Homo sapiens: one gene and its partners. The protein of the gene in region 4 interacts with the protein of the main gene of each other region in a biochemical or structural test. Each region holds a gene or a part of one and is shown on either strand. Other genes may lie near its edges.

The links.
Region 1: the proteins of ATRIP (region 4) and ATR form a complex in vitro, tested with the Homo sapiens proteins (4 studies listed by BioGRID and IntAct, with this or other methods).
Region 2: of the proteins of ATRIP (region 4) and SIRT2, one has a biochemical effect on the other in vitro, tested with the Homo sapiens proteins (one study listed by BioGRID).
Region 3: the proteins of ATRIP (region 4) and MCM2 form a complex in vitro, tested with the Homo sapiens proteins (one study listed by BioGRID).

What each region holds. Positions count from the first base shown.
Region 1 is NC_000003.12:142,565,234-142,568,733, forward strand, and holds part of ATR (serine/threonine-protein kinase ATR), read right to left. Parts: intron 2,922-3,500; coding exon 2,830-2,921; intron 1,029-2,829; coding exon 888-1,028; intron 1-887. UniProt on the Homo sapiens protein: Serine/threonine protein kinase which activates checkpoint signaling upon genotoxic stresses such as ionizing radiation (IR), ultraviolet light (UV), or DNA replication stalling, thereby acting as a DNA damage sensor.
Region 2 is NC_000019.10:38,889,619-38,893,118, forward strand, and holds part of SIRT2 (NAD-dependent protein deacetylase sirtuin-2), read right to left. Parts: intron 527-3,500; coding exon 485-526; intron 344-484; coding exon 237-343; intron 128-236; coding exon 71-127; intron 1-70. UniProt on the Homo sapiens protein: NAD-dependent protein deacetylase, which deacetylates internal lysines on histone and alpha-tubulin as well as many other proteins such as key transcription factors.
Region 3 is NC_000003.12:127,601,411-127,604,910, forward strand, and holds part of MCM2 (DNA replication licensing factor MCM2), read left to right. Parts: intron 1-3,197; coding exon 3,198-3,373; intron 3,374-3,466; exon of another isoform or gene 3,467-3,485; coding exon 3,486-3,500. UniProt on the Homo sapiens protein: Acts as a component of the MCM2-7 complex (MCM complex) which is the replicative helicase essential for 'once per cell cycle' DNA replication initiation and elongation in eukaryotic cells.
Region 4 is NC_000003.12:48,456,737-48,460,236, reverse strand, and holds part of ATRIP (ATR-interacting protein), read right to left. Parts: intron 2,979-3,500; coding exon 2,821-2,978; intron 879-2,820; coding exon 783-878; intron 451-782; coding exon 321-450; intron 128-320; coding exon 1-127. UniProt on the Homo sapiens protein: Required for checkpoint signaling after DNA damage. Required for ATR expression, possibly by stabilizing the protein.

The DNA of each region.
Region 1 (3,500 bases), about 94 Mb from region 4:
AGAATAAAGGAATAACCAAGCCAGTTCTAAGCAGTTAGAAGTAGTGCTCAGAAAAAAACTTCTTGGAGGACATGCTATCAAAGTTGAGTTAAAGTTTGAACAAAAAATTTTAAAATACTTTATCCATTATACAAAAAAAATGTTTATTTTGCATCTCTTTATGAAGACACCAATGAAGGGACAAAAGTAGTAGGTGCAATAAAGAATAAGCCTAGAGAAAAGCTTCAATATATAGAATAGCGGTCAGCAAACTTTTTTTAAAGGACCAGATAGTAATATTTTTGGCTTGAGTGCCCAAGTTGCCTTTGTAGTAGTCACAGACAATAAGTAAAAGAATGAGCATGGCTGTGTTCTAATAAAACTTTGTTTACAAAAACTGAAGCCAGGCACAGTAGCATGTGCCTATGGTCCCAGGTATGCAGGAGGCTGAGGCAGGAGGATCCCTTGAGTCTACCAGTTCAAGACCAGCCTGGGCAACATAGCGAGACCCTGTCTTATTTAAAAAAAAAAAAAAAAAAAAAAAAAGGAAACAAAACAAAACACCAAAACTTTGTTCACAAAAACAGGCAGCCACCCTGTGGACTACAGCTTGCCAAGCTCTGATCTAGAAGAAAGAGATTACCAAAAACAGAAAAAAGAAAACCATGCCAAAGTGTTCAATGGCAAATAAACAAATTTGATTATTTCTAAGTACCTAGTATACAATACTAAAAAGAAAACAATAAGGATATGTGAAGGAAAAATAACCATTACCATTTTGCTCCTTCAATTTATAGCAAAGCTGACCCAAAAAAGTATAATCCTGTACATGTAATATTTCAGAAGAGCAGTAAAAGGAGGATTTTATAGAACAGATGGCAAGTGAATGCATGAATAACAGCACTTACCAATACAACTGCCTTTGGCCTCATGGCTTCCACTCACATTTACAAACATAAGTGGGGAGGATTTCATGATATGCTGGATGAAATCAAGCAACATCACGGAGGTTGGCTGAGAGTCAGTTTTCTTTACAAGTTCTACAGCAACTAAAACAATAAGATTCATTTTAAAGAGTCATGACAAATTAAACAATGGTCCTTTTGTTAAGAAACCAGACTGTGGGCCAGGCAAGGTGCCTCACTCCTGTAACCCCTGTACTTTGGGAGGCTGAAGTGGGCGGATCACCTGAGCCCAGGAACTCAAGACCAGCCTGGATAAGATGTCAAGATCCCGTCTCTACAAAAAAAATTTTTCTTAAAATTAGCTGGGAGTGGTAGTGTGCCTATAGTCCCAGCTACTCAGGGGGCTGAGGCTGGAGGATTCCCTTGAGCCCAGAAGTTCAAGGCAGTAGTGAGCTACGATCACACTATTGCACTCCAGCCTGGAACAAAGCAAGACTCTGTCTCTTAAAATTAAAAAAAAAAAAACAAAAAGTGGGGTGGGGGTGGGGAACCAGACTTTGGTGACCAGAATTATATCCAGCACAGCACTCAACAACATTCAAGCTAAATTGATGGGGCTAAACACTACAGTCTTTTTTTTTTTTGAGACACAGTCTCACTCTGTTGCCCAGGCTGGAGTGTAGTGGTGTGATCTTGGCTCACTGCAACCTGTGCCTCCGGGGTACAAGTGATTCTTCTGCCTCAGCCTCCTGAGTAGCTAGGACTACAGGTGTGTGCCACCACACCCAGCTAATTTTGGTATTTTTAGTAGAGACAGGGTTTCGTCATGTTGGCCAGGCTGGTCTCAAACTCCTGACCTCAGGTGATCCACCCACCTCGGCCTCCCAAAGTGTTGGGATTACAGGCGTGAGCCACCGTGCCCAGCCAACACTACAGTCTTATCTAATTTTAAATGTTTAAAAATCACATGCATTCCTCTACCATACATCTATTTATCAAACATGTACTTCAGGAATAATATGCCAGGCAATGCTAAAATCTAAGGATTAAAAAAAAGTTCTCACAATCCAGTGGGGCGCCAAACAAACCAACTAATAATTATAATACAATATGGTAACAGCACTAATCCAGAATAAGGAGAAACAGGTATCTGGGAGGACACTGTGAAGGAAATGATTCCTAGATGAGGAGTTGGTCAGAGAGGGGAAGGGCAAGTAGTCTAAACGGAGGGAATATGAATACGATACAAAAACACATCTTGTAAGTATTCAGTAGTCCTTTGTTATTTTTCAGCAACCCATCATTTTACTGATTGAAAAAGAAAGGATTAATGGCTAGTCTAAGTCATAAAATCTGCGCCAAATTTGGAATCCAAATTATAAACCCTGAGCCTAATGCCATTTTATATTATCCCTCCCATGTAATTTCAACAGATATGACAAATGTGACACCATCTTGCCAGGTTGGTAATATTCTGTCTAGCAGATTGGCACAAACAGGCAATAATTGATTCAGTAACTCACATAATCCTATAATCTCCTATAGGCACAGGCATGAACCTACTTAAAGAGTAACTTACTTAAAGAGGTTTTTTTGGGTGGCATTTGCTATTAGTCTACCACTGGCATAACAGCTAACCAAAATAGGGTCCACATGATTGGTACTGGACAAATATTTTTACATATAATATCCAATATTAAAGAACTCATAGCAAGCAGTAGAAAATCTAGATAACAAACAGGAAAAGAGAATTATTTTAAAAGCCTAATTCAAATTTTGTAACAAGCAATAAGCAATACTGATTAACAAATAACTTGCTTGAAAATAGTAACTATCATAAATACTCCATATCTAAAACTACATGGAGAAAATGCTACTATAATTTATACATGGAAAAGAAAAGTCTAATTTATAAAGTTTATATAAGAAATAATTGGTTTCTTACCAACATTTACATCTGTAAGTATCCGGTCAATGAATTGACACAGAATTTGTCTTGGCTTCTGTACAACTGTATTATATTCCTCTGGTGTGGCACTAAAATACAAATTAAAAGCTTTTAATCCTTAAAGTGACTCAGTTTCATTTGCAAAAAAAATTTCTCTAAAGTAGAACTCATCAAATGTGTTCAGTGTCAATGTTGATATTCACAGTATTCTTCTGTTTAAAAATTGAAAAGAAAATCTGAATATGTTACCAACTTACAAGAAAAAAAAGAATATGCTAAGTAATACTAAAGAGATCCAATCAGCAAAGCCTAGACCTGAACTTCTCAATATGGTGGCCACTAGCTACAAGTAACTAGGGAGAACTTGAAATGTGATTAGTACAAATTGAAATGTGCTATTGATGGCAGTGGCAGCCCAGTTGGAGCGGTGAGGAAGGTGGTGCTAGGGCTGCTCTCTCCAGGGCGCTAGTGGGCAGAAGCCCCGCCCCCTTCTGAGGTGCAAGACAGGTGGAAGCCCCGCCCCCTTCCGAGTTGCAGGGTCGGGAGCCCAGCCATCCTGGGTGCAGCTGCAGCCGCCCAACCACGGCTGCAAACCCAGGCATCCCTGCTCTTTCCAGGGCCGGGAAGGCCCCCTGCCCTCACAGACTTGGAAATGCCTGCTCCCGCTG
Region 2 (3,500 bases), on a different chromosome or scaffold from region 4:
TGGCGGGGCTTCTCATGCGTGCCCTCCCCCAACCCTTCCTGTTTCGCCCCCTGCAAAACAAAGATCTCACCTTGAACTGCCCAGGATAGAGTTCCTTGGCGAGGGCGAAGAAGGGTTCCGGATGTTTCTGTAGGAGAGACAGCCAGAGGGCCAGATGCCCCAGGTAGCGTGAGGGTTGGAGCCAGGTGACCCCATCCCCACCCCTCACAGACGCCCCTTCCTGGGGGAGCACAAACCTTGAAATAGCTGATCTCAAAGATGGCCTCTGGGTAGGGAAGATGGTACTTCTCTAGGTTGTCATAGAGGCCGGTGGATGGAGAGCGAAAGTCGGGGATGCCTGCGGCTAGGAAAGGGGGGTCAGGGAGCAGTTGGTCTATACCATACTAACCCTCCCAGGACAGGGCTCAGATAGGGCTCCTCCCCAGCCCTTGGGAGGGACTCCCCAGTTCCTGGGGGTAGCTGCTGGGGGAGAAGGGTTACTTACATGTGGAGATTCCAGCTCCCACCAAACAGATGACTCTGCGACCTGGAGGAGAGGAACTTATGCACCATATGACACCGTTTGCTCAGTCCCTACGATAGCACCACCCATCACAGCCCCTGACATCGTTTACTCCATGCCAGGCCCTGGGGCAAGCATCTCAGATGCATGACGGGCCTTCCAATCATCTAGACGGGGATGGTGTTAACATCCCCATTTTATAAATGAGAAAACTGGGGCTCAGATAGGGGAAGAAGTCACACAATCAACTGCGGAAGAGCCAGCCAGCGGATAAAGAATCCAGTGTTGGGCTGGGTGCAGTGGCTCATGCCTGTAATCCCAGAACTTTGGGAGGCTGAGGCAGGCGGGTCATCTGAGGTCAAGAGTTTGAGCCCAGCCTGGCCAACATGGCAAAACCTCATCTCTACTGAAAATACAAAATTAGCCAGGCGTGGTGGCACGTGCCTGTAATCTCAGCTACTTGGGAGGCTGAGGCAGGAGAATCACTTGAACCCGGGAGGCGGAGGTTGCAGTGAGCCGAGATCATGCCATTGCACTCTAGCCTGGGTGACAGAGCGAGACTCCATCTCAAAAAAAGGAAAAAAAAAAAAAAAAGAGAATCCACTGTTGGAAATCACACCAACTTGGACTTGAGAAAAGGCCACTTTAGGATAAGAACCCTGGGCTGAGCAGAAATAGCTAGCTGGTGGCTGGTGAGTAGCCACCAGGCCATAGTACCCTGGCATCTGCCCATCAGCTGATAGACAGGCACAAGTGTGATATGCTGTGGATCAGATGCCTCTGGGATGCCCTGTCCAAGGGAGGACAGCAAAGGTGAACAGAGCACAAAGCCTGCCACAGCTTCAGCCCTGAGCTTCAGCTCTGAGATGCCATCAGGCCAGGCCTGGTTGAATCCAGTGGTGGCTACATGTGGTCTGGATTCAGGGGACCTGGGGTCAAATCCTGGCTCTGCCACTTGGCAACTGTTTGACCCTACACTGAGTCGTGACCTTTTTGTGCCTCCTTTTCCTCCTCTGTTCAGATCACTTCCATAATGATCTTACAGGTATAATGTGAATATCAAATAATAGGGCACTTGTAAAGTGCTGAGCCCAGTGCCTGGCAAATAGTGAAGCCTCAATTAAGTGGTTAAAAAGAAATTTTTAGGGCCGGGCCCGGTGGCTCACTCCTGTAATCCCAGCACTTTGGGAGGCCGAGGGGGGCAGATCACCTGAGGTCAGGAGTTCAAGACCAGCCTGGCTAACATGGTGAAACCCCGTCTCTACTAAAAGTACAAAAATTAGCCGGGCGTGGTGGCACGCGCCTGTAATCCCAGCTACTCGGGAGGCTGAAGCAGGAGAATCGCTTGAACCCGGGAGGCAGAGGTTGCAGTGAGCCATGATAGCGCCACTGCACTCCAGCCTGGGTAACAGAGTGAGACTCTGTCTCAAAATAATAATAATAATAAATTTTTAGAGCAGTGAGGTGAGGGTTGGAGCCTCACCTTTAAATTTTTGCAGAGAGGGGGTCTCGCTTATTGCCCAGGCTAGTCTTGACCTACTGGCCTCAAGCGATCCTCCTGCTTTCAGCCTCCCAAAATGGTGGGATTATAGGCCTGAACCACCACTCCCGGCCTCAACTAATTGTTATTTTTCATTACTATCTCCTCCTGGGCACCCTCATGAGCCAATTACCCCAGAATCCAGGTGCAGGAGGACACAAGGAACAAATGCTTTGTAGCCACTGCCTGTGTTGTCTTTGGGGCCTGCCCAGGCTAAAAGATGGCTGCAGACAGCTGCTCGCCTGCCGCAGGAGAGGGAGGCTCAGGGCAGCAGGCCTGGCTGCCTGAGGAGGGAGACAGTGGCAGCTGGAGGACAGGGACACAGGAGAAGATGTCCTCAACAAAAGGCTGCTCAGGAACCACAAAGGGTCGATTGTTCTAGTTGAGGACTGCCAAGGGCCTGGTTTCTCAGACTTTGGTGACCTCAACTTGTGGCAAGAAATATAAATTTCAGGCCGGGACGGGTGGTTCATGCCTCTAATCCTAGCACTTTGGGAGGCCGAGGAGGGTGGATTGCCTGAGCTCAGGTGTTCAAGACCAGCCTGGGCAACATGGTGAAACCCTGTCTCTACTAAAATACAAAAAATTAGCCAGTCGTGGTGGTGTGCGTCTGTAATCCCAGCCACTCGGGAGGCTGAGGCAGGAGAATTGCTGGAACCCGGGAGGTGGAGGTTGCAGTGAGCTGAGATTGTGCCACTGCACTCCAGCCTGGGCAACAGAGCAAGACTCCATCTCAAAAAAAAAAAAAGAAAAAGAAATATAAATTTCATGCTGACTCAGTAAGTGGACACCTATCCACCACATCTGAAATAAGCCTCCTGTAGTAATAACCACGGCACACCCTGCCACAGCTCTCGCTATGTTCCAGGCCCTGCTCTAAGCATTTGCATTTTTATTTATCTTTTAAATTTTATTACTTTATTTTTTTTTAGAGTCAGAGTCTCACTGTGTTGCCCAGGCTGCAGTGCAGTGGTGCCATCATAGCTCACTGCAGCCTCCAATTCCTGGGCTCAAACAATCCTCCCTTCTCAGCCTCCTGAGTAACTGAGACTACAGGCAACGCCCCCATATCTGACTATTTTTTTTTTTCTTGTAGAGATGGCGGGGGGGTCTCACTATGTTGCCCAGGCTGGTCTTGAACGCCTGGCGTTGAGTGATCCTCCCACGATGGCCTCCCAAAGTGCTGAGATTACATACATGAGCCACTGCCCCTGGTCCTATATTAATTTATTTAGCCCCGCCAATAACCTTATGAGTTAGATACTATAATCATTATCCTCATTTTATGAAACAGGCCTGGTCAATCAGAGTGCAGTAATTCACTCAGCAATGGAGAAGCGACCCAGGTCTGGCCAATCAGAGGCATGGGGGCAGGCATTTGACTCAACCGGGACCAATGGGAGCCAATCTCTGCTGTTTGGTTTGAACTACTGGGAAAAGGTGCTCTCTCGGTGGCAG
Region 3 (3,500 bases), about 79 Mb from region 4:
AGTGTAGTGGCACAATCTCAGCTCACTGCAACCTCCGCCTCCCAGGTTCAAGCAATTCTCCTGCCTCAGCCTCCCAAGTAGCTGGGATCACAGACATTTGCCACCACACCGGCTAATTTTTCTATTTTTAGTAGAGATGCGGTTTCGGTTTTACCATGTTGGCCAGGCTGGTCTTGAACCCCTGACCTCAGGTGATCCACGTGCTTCAGCCTCCCAAAGTGCTGGGATTACAGGTGTGAGCCACCACACCCGGCCCGTTACAGGTTTTTATGTGACCAGATCTTTAATTCTGTTGGCTATGTAGGAGTGAGATTGTTGGTCTTGTGTTTAATCTTTTGAGGAACTGCCAGACTGTTTTCAAAAGCAGCTGCACTATCTTGCATTCCCACCAGCAACACATGAGGGTTCCACTCCTCCGTGTTCTTGCCAACATTGGTCTTTTTGATTCTGGCCATCCCTGCAGGTGTGAAGTGGCATCTCATTCCTGATGGCTAATGATGTTGAACATCTTTTCGTATGCTTGATTGGCTATCTGTGTATCTTCAGAGAAATCCTGGACTCACTTTTTAATTGGGTTGCTTGTCTTTTTACTATTGAGTTGTAAGAGGTTTTTTACATATTCTGAATATAAGTCCTCTATCAGATATGTAATTTGCAGTTATTTTCTCCTCAATCTGGCTTATCTTTTTCGTGGTTTTAATGTTTTCTTTTGAAGTGCAAAAGTTTTGAAATTTGATGAAGTCCAGTTTAACTTTTTTTTTTTTTTTTTTTTGTATGAACCAATTAGAAGTTTGCTGAGGGCATTTTGTGTGACTTGAGATCCAGGGAGAATGGGACCGATACCTTTTCCCCGAAAACATGGAAGAAATCAGACCTGGTCAACTCTGATATCTGCCTGGCTGGGTTCTGCTTGGGGCATCAACAGCATAAAAAGATTTGTTCTGACAGTAGTTTGACAATGTTTATTGCAGAAAAATAGTAGCAGTTTCTCTTGTCACCATTTAACCTGAAAAAAGGAGAATTCAAGGGGATTGTCTTGGGGAGGCAGTATGGCATGGGGGAAGGAGCTCTGGGCTTGGACTATATTTTGACACTCAGGTCTACAGAGCGACCATAGGCAAAAATCACATTTTCCCCTCAACTACCCATTTCCTCATCTTTCAGATGGAATGACAGTGTCTCCTCCTCAGGGAAGAGAGCACTGCAGGGAAGAGAGCACAGTGCTTTGCACTCGCTGGGTGCCTTATTAAGGCATTACTTCTCTTCAGTATCTGAAGGAAGATAATGTGGAAAATGTGTGTCTGATGGTCTTAGAGTAGCTCAAAGGGTTGAGACAGTGGGTGGCCATTTCAGAGGGCTGGTTTGGCTGACTGTGCATGGAAGCCAGGACATCAGGTTGTTGAAGGCGGCATAGTCAGAGATGGGGAAAGTACAGGGAGAATTCCAGCCCTCACGGGGAGTTGGGTCAGCTCTCTGAAGCCTTTTGGTCTAATGTTTTGTGGTTCCTTGAATTATTTTTTCTTATTGGGCGCATAGAAGCTGTCTGGAGATCTACCTCCCCTTTTGTAATTGTGGTAAAATACACATAACAAAATTTACCTTTTCTTTTGTTTTTTTTTTGAGACAGAGTCTCACTCTGTTGCCAGGCTGGAGTGCAGTGGTGTGATCTCGGCTCACTGCAACCTCCGAAAGTGATTCTCCTGCCTCAGCTTCCCAAGTAGCTGGGACTACAGGCGCCCACCACCGCGCCCAAGTAATTTTTGTATTTTTAGTAGAGACGGGGTTTCACCGTGTTAGCCAGGATGGTCTCGATCTCCTGACCTCGTGATCCGCCCGCCTCAGCCTCCCAAAGTGCTGGGATTACAAGCATGAGCTACTGCCCTGGCCCAAAATTTACCATCTTAACCTTTTTTGTTTGTTTGTTTGTTTGAGACGGAGTTTCACTCTTGTTGCCCAGGCTGGAGTGCAGTGGTGCTATCTCGGCTCACTGCAACCTCTGCCTCCCTGGTTCAAAGTGCTAGGATTACAGGCATGAGCCACCGCACCCAGCCCTTTTGTTTGTTTGTTTGTTTTGTTTTGTTTGCTAGTTTTTTGAGACAGGGTCTTACTCTGTCACCCAGGCTGGAATGCAGTGGCACGAACGTGGCTCACTGCAGCCTTGAACTCCTGCGCTCAAGCAATCCTCCCAGCTCAGCCTCCTGAGTAGCTAGGACTATAGGCATGTGCCACCAGGCCTGGGTTATTTTTTTTTTCTTTTTGTTTTTTTTGAGACGGAGTCTCACTCTGTTGCGACCAGGCTGGAGTGCAGTGGCACAATCTCTGCTCACTGCAACCTCTGCCTCCCGGGTTCAAGCGATTCTCCTGCCTCAGCCTCTCGAGTAGCTGGGACTAGAGGCACATGACACTACGCCCAGCTAATTTTTGTATTTTTAGTAGAGATGGAGTTTTACCATGTTCGCCAGGATGGTCTCAATCTCTTGACTTCGTGATTCATCCGCCTTGGCCTCCCAAAGTGCTGGGATTACAGGCATGAGCCACCGTGCCCGGCCATTTTCTATTTTTATACAGATGGGGTCTCACTATGTTAAGGCTGTTCTTGAACTCCTGGGCTCAAGTGATCCTCCTGCCTTCACCTCCCAAAGTGCTGGAATTATAGGCATGAACCACCATGCCCAGCCATCTTAACCATTCTTATGTGTATGGTTCAGTGGCATTAAGTACATTCATATTGTTGTGCGGCCATCACCGCCATCCATCCACAAAAGTCTTTTCAGTTTGAAAACTGAAACTGTCTCGGTTAAACACTAACTCCCCATTCTTCCCAGCACCTAGCAACCATCATTTTACTTTCTGTTTCTGTGAATTTGACCGCTCAGTGAGTGGAACCATATAGGATTTGTCCTTTTGTGCCTGGCTTCTTTCACTCAGAATCATGTCCTCAAGGTTCATCCATGTGCCAGCACGTGGCAGAATTTCCTTCTATTTTAAGGCTTCATCGTCCATCATATGGACAGATCGTGTTTTGTTCATCCATTGGAGATCTTTTCTGAGCCTTCTGTGTTTCTGACCTGGAAGCGCTGAGCCTACCCACAATGGGGCTCCTGAACCTTAGGGAACAGGCCCAGTTCCTGGATGGGGTTTGGTGCTTAGGGTTTTCCTTTTTGGCAGTAACCACATCTGTTTTGGTGCTCCCTCAGGGACTACCGCGCCATCCCAGAGCTGGACGCCTATGAGGCCGAGGGACTGGCTCTGGATGATGAGGACGTAGAGGAGCTGACGGCCAGTCAGAGGGAGGCAGCAGAGCGGGCCATGCGGCAGCGTGACCGGGAGGCTGGCCGGGGCCTGGGCCGCATGCGCCGTGGGCTCCTGTATGGTAGGTCCAGTTGTCTGCCTGCCCGAGGGACTGGGAAGCTGGGAAGGAGTCTGGGAGGGGAGTAGAAGGTGCTGGGGATGACCGCAGTAGCAGGTGTCTCTTGCCTCCCCAGACAGCGATGAGGAGG
Region 4 (3,500 bases):
GCACTCATTCCGGGCAACCAGATTCAGTCCAGTGAATGCCAGGTTCTGTGCTTCTCTCAGGGCTGAGAGGGAAAATGACCCATCATAAGAACCTGTGGTCCTGAGGCCTGACATTCCAGCCAAGGTACTGGCAACAAACACAAAGAAAAATAGATTAAGTGTGGGATGGAGATAAGGTCAAGAGCCCCAAACAGCCTGCCTGCCAAATTCTCCAGGCTGCCTGCCCTTCCCACAGACTTCTCAGGCTGGCCAGGGCCAGAAAGGAATTTGCTTCCAGGAAGCTCCTTCCCAAACAAGCTTTCCAGGAGTCTTATGCTTACCTGCCAAACCCTGGTGGCTGCAGGGGGGTGCCAGCAGGAGACTCAGAACTACTACTCAGGAGGTGGCAAAGGCTTAGGGATGACCCTGGGATCAAAGGCTGCTTCAGGAGCAGGTTTATCAAAATGGAACCTGCAGAAGACAAGATGACTCTAGAAGGTTCTGACATGGGAGATCTTTTCGGTGGCTTTCAGAAGGAAACAGTAAGGATTCTTTGGATGCCAACTGTCCTCTAGGCTGCCACTAAGCCCCAGGAAGATGCCTGTGGGTGCGGAAGGCTCTGGGACATACCTGCCCTTGGCCCTTTCCACTTTATAAAGTCTTCTGCTTAAGCCACATACTTTGACTTCCCTGGACTCTCTGAAGGACTGCCCGGGGCACCGGTTCTCAGAGGCCTGGGCAATTCTTCTGCATATTACTCAGAGCCATGCAGGCCCCTGCAGGAGAAGCAGGGATTCTGGTACCTTGAGTGTTTGATCTCTGTCTCCAGCTGTCAACAAAGCTTTTCTGGGCCTCTTCTTGTTTTATGGAGTCACCTCTCAGACTGTGGGGCTTACTATCTGAAATGTGATAAAATGTAAATCAAAACTTGAGCCCAGAAGCATGGGCATATTAGAAACTTTTACATGCAATGAGTTTAAAACACACGCTGTTCTACTTCTTCGAACTTGGAACAAACAAGAGCCAAAGCGGCTCAAGAGCCCTGCATCTTTTACCTTCCTTATGTAAAACAGGAACTCATACAAGGAAAGGAAAAGAAAATCAAGCTGTTTGCCTCACTCAAAATGAGGCAATTAGATAAAACAGTGACCACTAACATTGACATGGTGCTTGTTACGTGCTAGACAGTGTTTTAAGAGCTCTATACGCATCAGCCCATTTGTTCCTCAGTGACCCTACAAGGATTTATCATTAGGTCTGTTTTACATATAGGGAAACTGAGGCACAGAGACTAAAGGACTTGCCCAAATCATATAAGCCAGTTAACAGCATTACTGGGACTCACATCCAGGCTACTGGGCTCTACTGCCTGCTTGTAACACTACTGTACACTGCCCCTTTAGCTGCTAGATGCCAAAAATGTAAGTGGGCTACAGTTTCTCAGAAGTGTTATGATGGCCAAGGATTTGAAAGGTTGATGGTAAGAAGAGGGTCAATGTATCCGATTTATAAGATACACTGACATAGCAGTCTGAAAACCTACTGATGTTAGATTGTCTCTCTCTAAAAAACAGCAGATCCCCTCAATCTGGACTGAGTTATAAAAACTCAAAAGCTGGACTACAAAAGGAAAACAGAGGCTGGGCACGGTGGCTCATGCCTGTAATCCCAGCATTTTGGGAGGCTGAAGTGGGTGGATCACGAGGTCATGAGATTGAGACCATCCAGGCCAACATGGTGAAACCTGTCTCTACTAAAAATACAAAAATTAGCTGGGTGTGGTGGCGCATGCCTGTAGTCCCAGCTACTCGGGAGGCTGAGGCAGGAGAATCGCTTGAACATGGGAGGCAGAGGTTACAGTGAGCCGAGATCACGCCACTGCACTCCAGCCTGGTGACAGAGTGAGACTCCGCCTCAAAGAAAAAAAAAAAAAACAAGAAAAGAAAAACAGATTCCTGCATACTAGCTAGGTTTTTGGCATGGTCAATTGATGCTGTGATGGTTTAAAAATATGCCCACAAGCATGATGGCAGGTGCCTGTAATCCCAGCTATTCGGGAGTCTGAGGCAGGAGAATCACTTGAACCCGGGAGGCGGAAGTTGCAGTGAGCTGAGATCGTGCCATTGCACTCCAGCCTGGGTGACAGGGTGAGACTCCGCCTCAAAAAAAAAAAAAAAAAGGCCCACAAATGCTTTGACACAACTCCCCTTCAAAAGGTATAAGCTTGGGAGGAGGGGGGAGGGATAGCATTAGGAGATATACCTAATGCTAAATGACGAGTTAATGGGTGCAACACACCAACATGGCACATGTATACATACGTAACACACCTGCACGTTGTGCACATGTACCCTAAAATTTAAAGTATAATAATAAAATAAAAATAAAAAATAAAAATTAAAAAAAAGGTATAAGCTTGGTTTCTCCCCTTGAATGACGCCCAGACTCAGTGATTTGCTTCTAACAAATACAATGTGGCAGAGGGGATGCTGTGTGACTTCTGAGGCTAGGCCATAAATGGATAGCTTCTGCCTGGCTCGCTCTCTCTGGATTTGCTAGCTTTAGAGGAAGCCACCCACCAGGTTAAGAGGATACCCCATATCCATGTGCAGAGGCCCATGTGGCAAGAAATTACACTGCCAGCCATGTGAGTGAGCCACCTTGAAATAGATCCTCCAGCTTAAGACAAGCTTTCAGTGATTCCAGTCCCTGCAGAGATTGTCCCCTCTGTGCCTTGTCAGAATTGCTGATCACAGAAATTGGGAGAAAATAAATAATAATTGTTTTAAGCCACATATTTGGGTAGCTTGTTATACATCAATAGATGACTAATGGACTTACCCTCTCTGCCCACCAGAGGCTTGTATCCTGACTCCGTCTGGCAGGGGTGGGGAAGGGACATGTTAGCACTAAAAGACTCCTTTGTAGGAAAAGATGTTTTTCCAAATTGTGGAGAACATGCTTCTGGCTTTATAACCACAGAAGGGTTTTTCCTAGGACTGGAAAAAGTTAACTATGAAAGCAAAGTAATGATTCTACTAAAACCATTCAAAATATCTGGTTACAAAATTTCTAACAAACTTTAAACTTTTCATGTCTAGGTGTTTTAACCAAAGGTTTTATCTATTATATGTCTACCATTCTTTGTCAGAGGAGCAGTGCAAAATTCCAGGCATTTGTTTTTCTTTTTAAAAATATTTTAAAATTTTAATTTCTCTATAGAGATGGGGATTCACTAAGTTACCCAGGCTGGTCTGGAACTGCTGAGCTCAAGTGATCCACCCACTCTGGCCTCCCAAAATGCTGGGATTACAGGCATGATCCACTGTTACTGGCTAATTCCAGGGATTTTGATCCAAATTATTGAAAATTCTTTTACTCATTTTTATATTTTTCTAATCATCCAAAAATATAATATTAGCCATAATTCCTTTACTATTCTTTATTATCACTATTTACAATTCCACCAAAACATTTTTTTTTGAGACAGAGTCTTGTTCCATTGCCCAGGCTGGAGTACA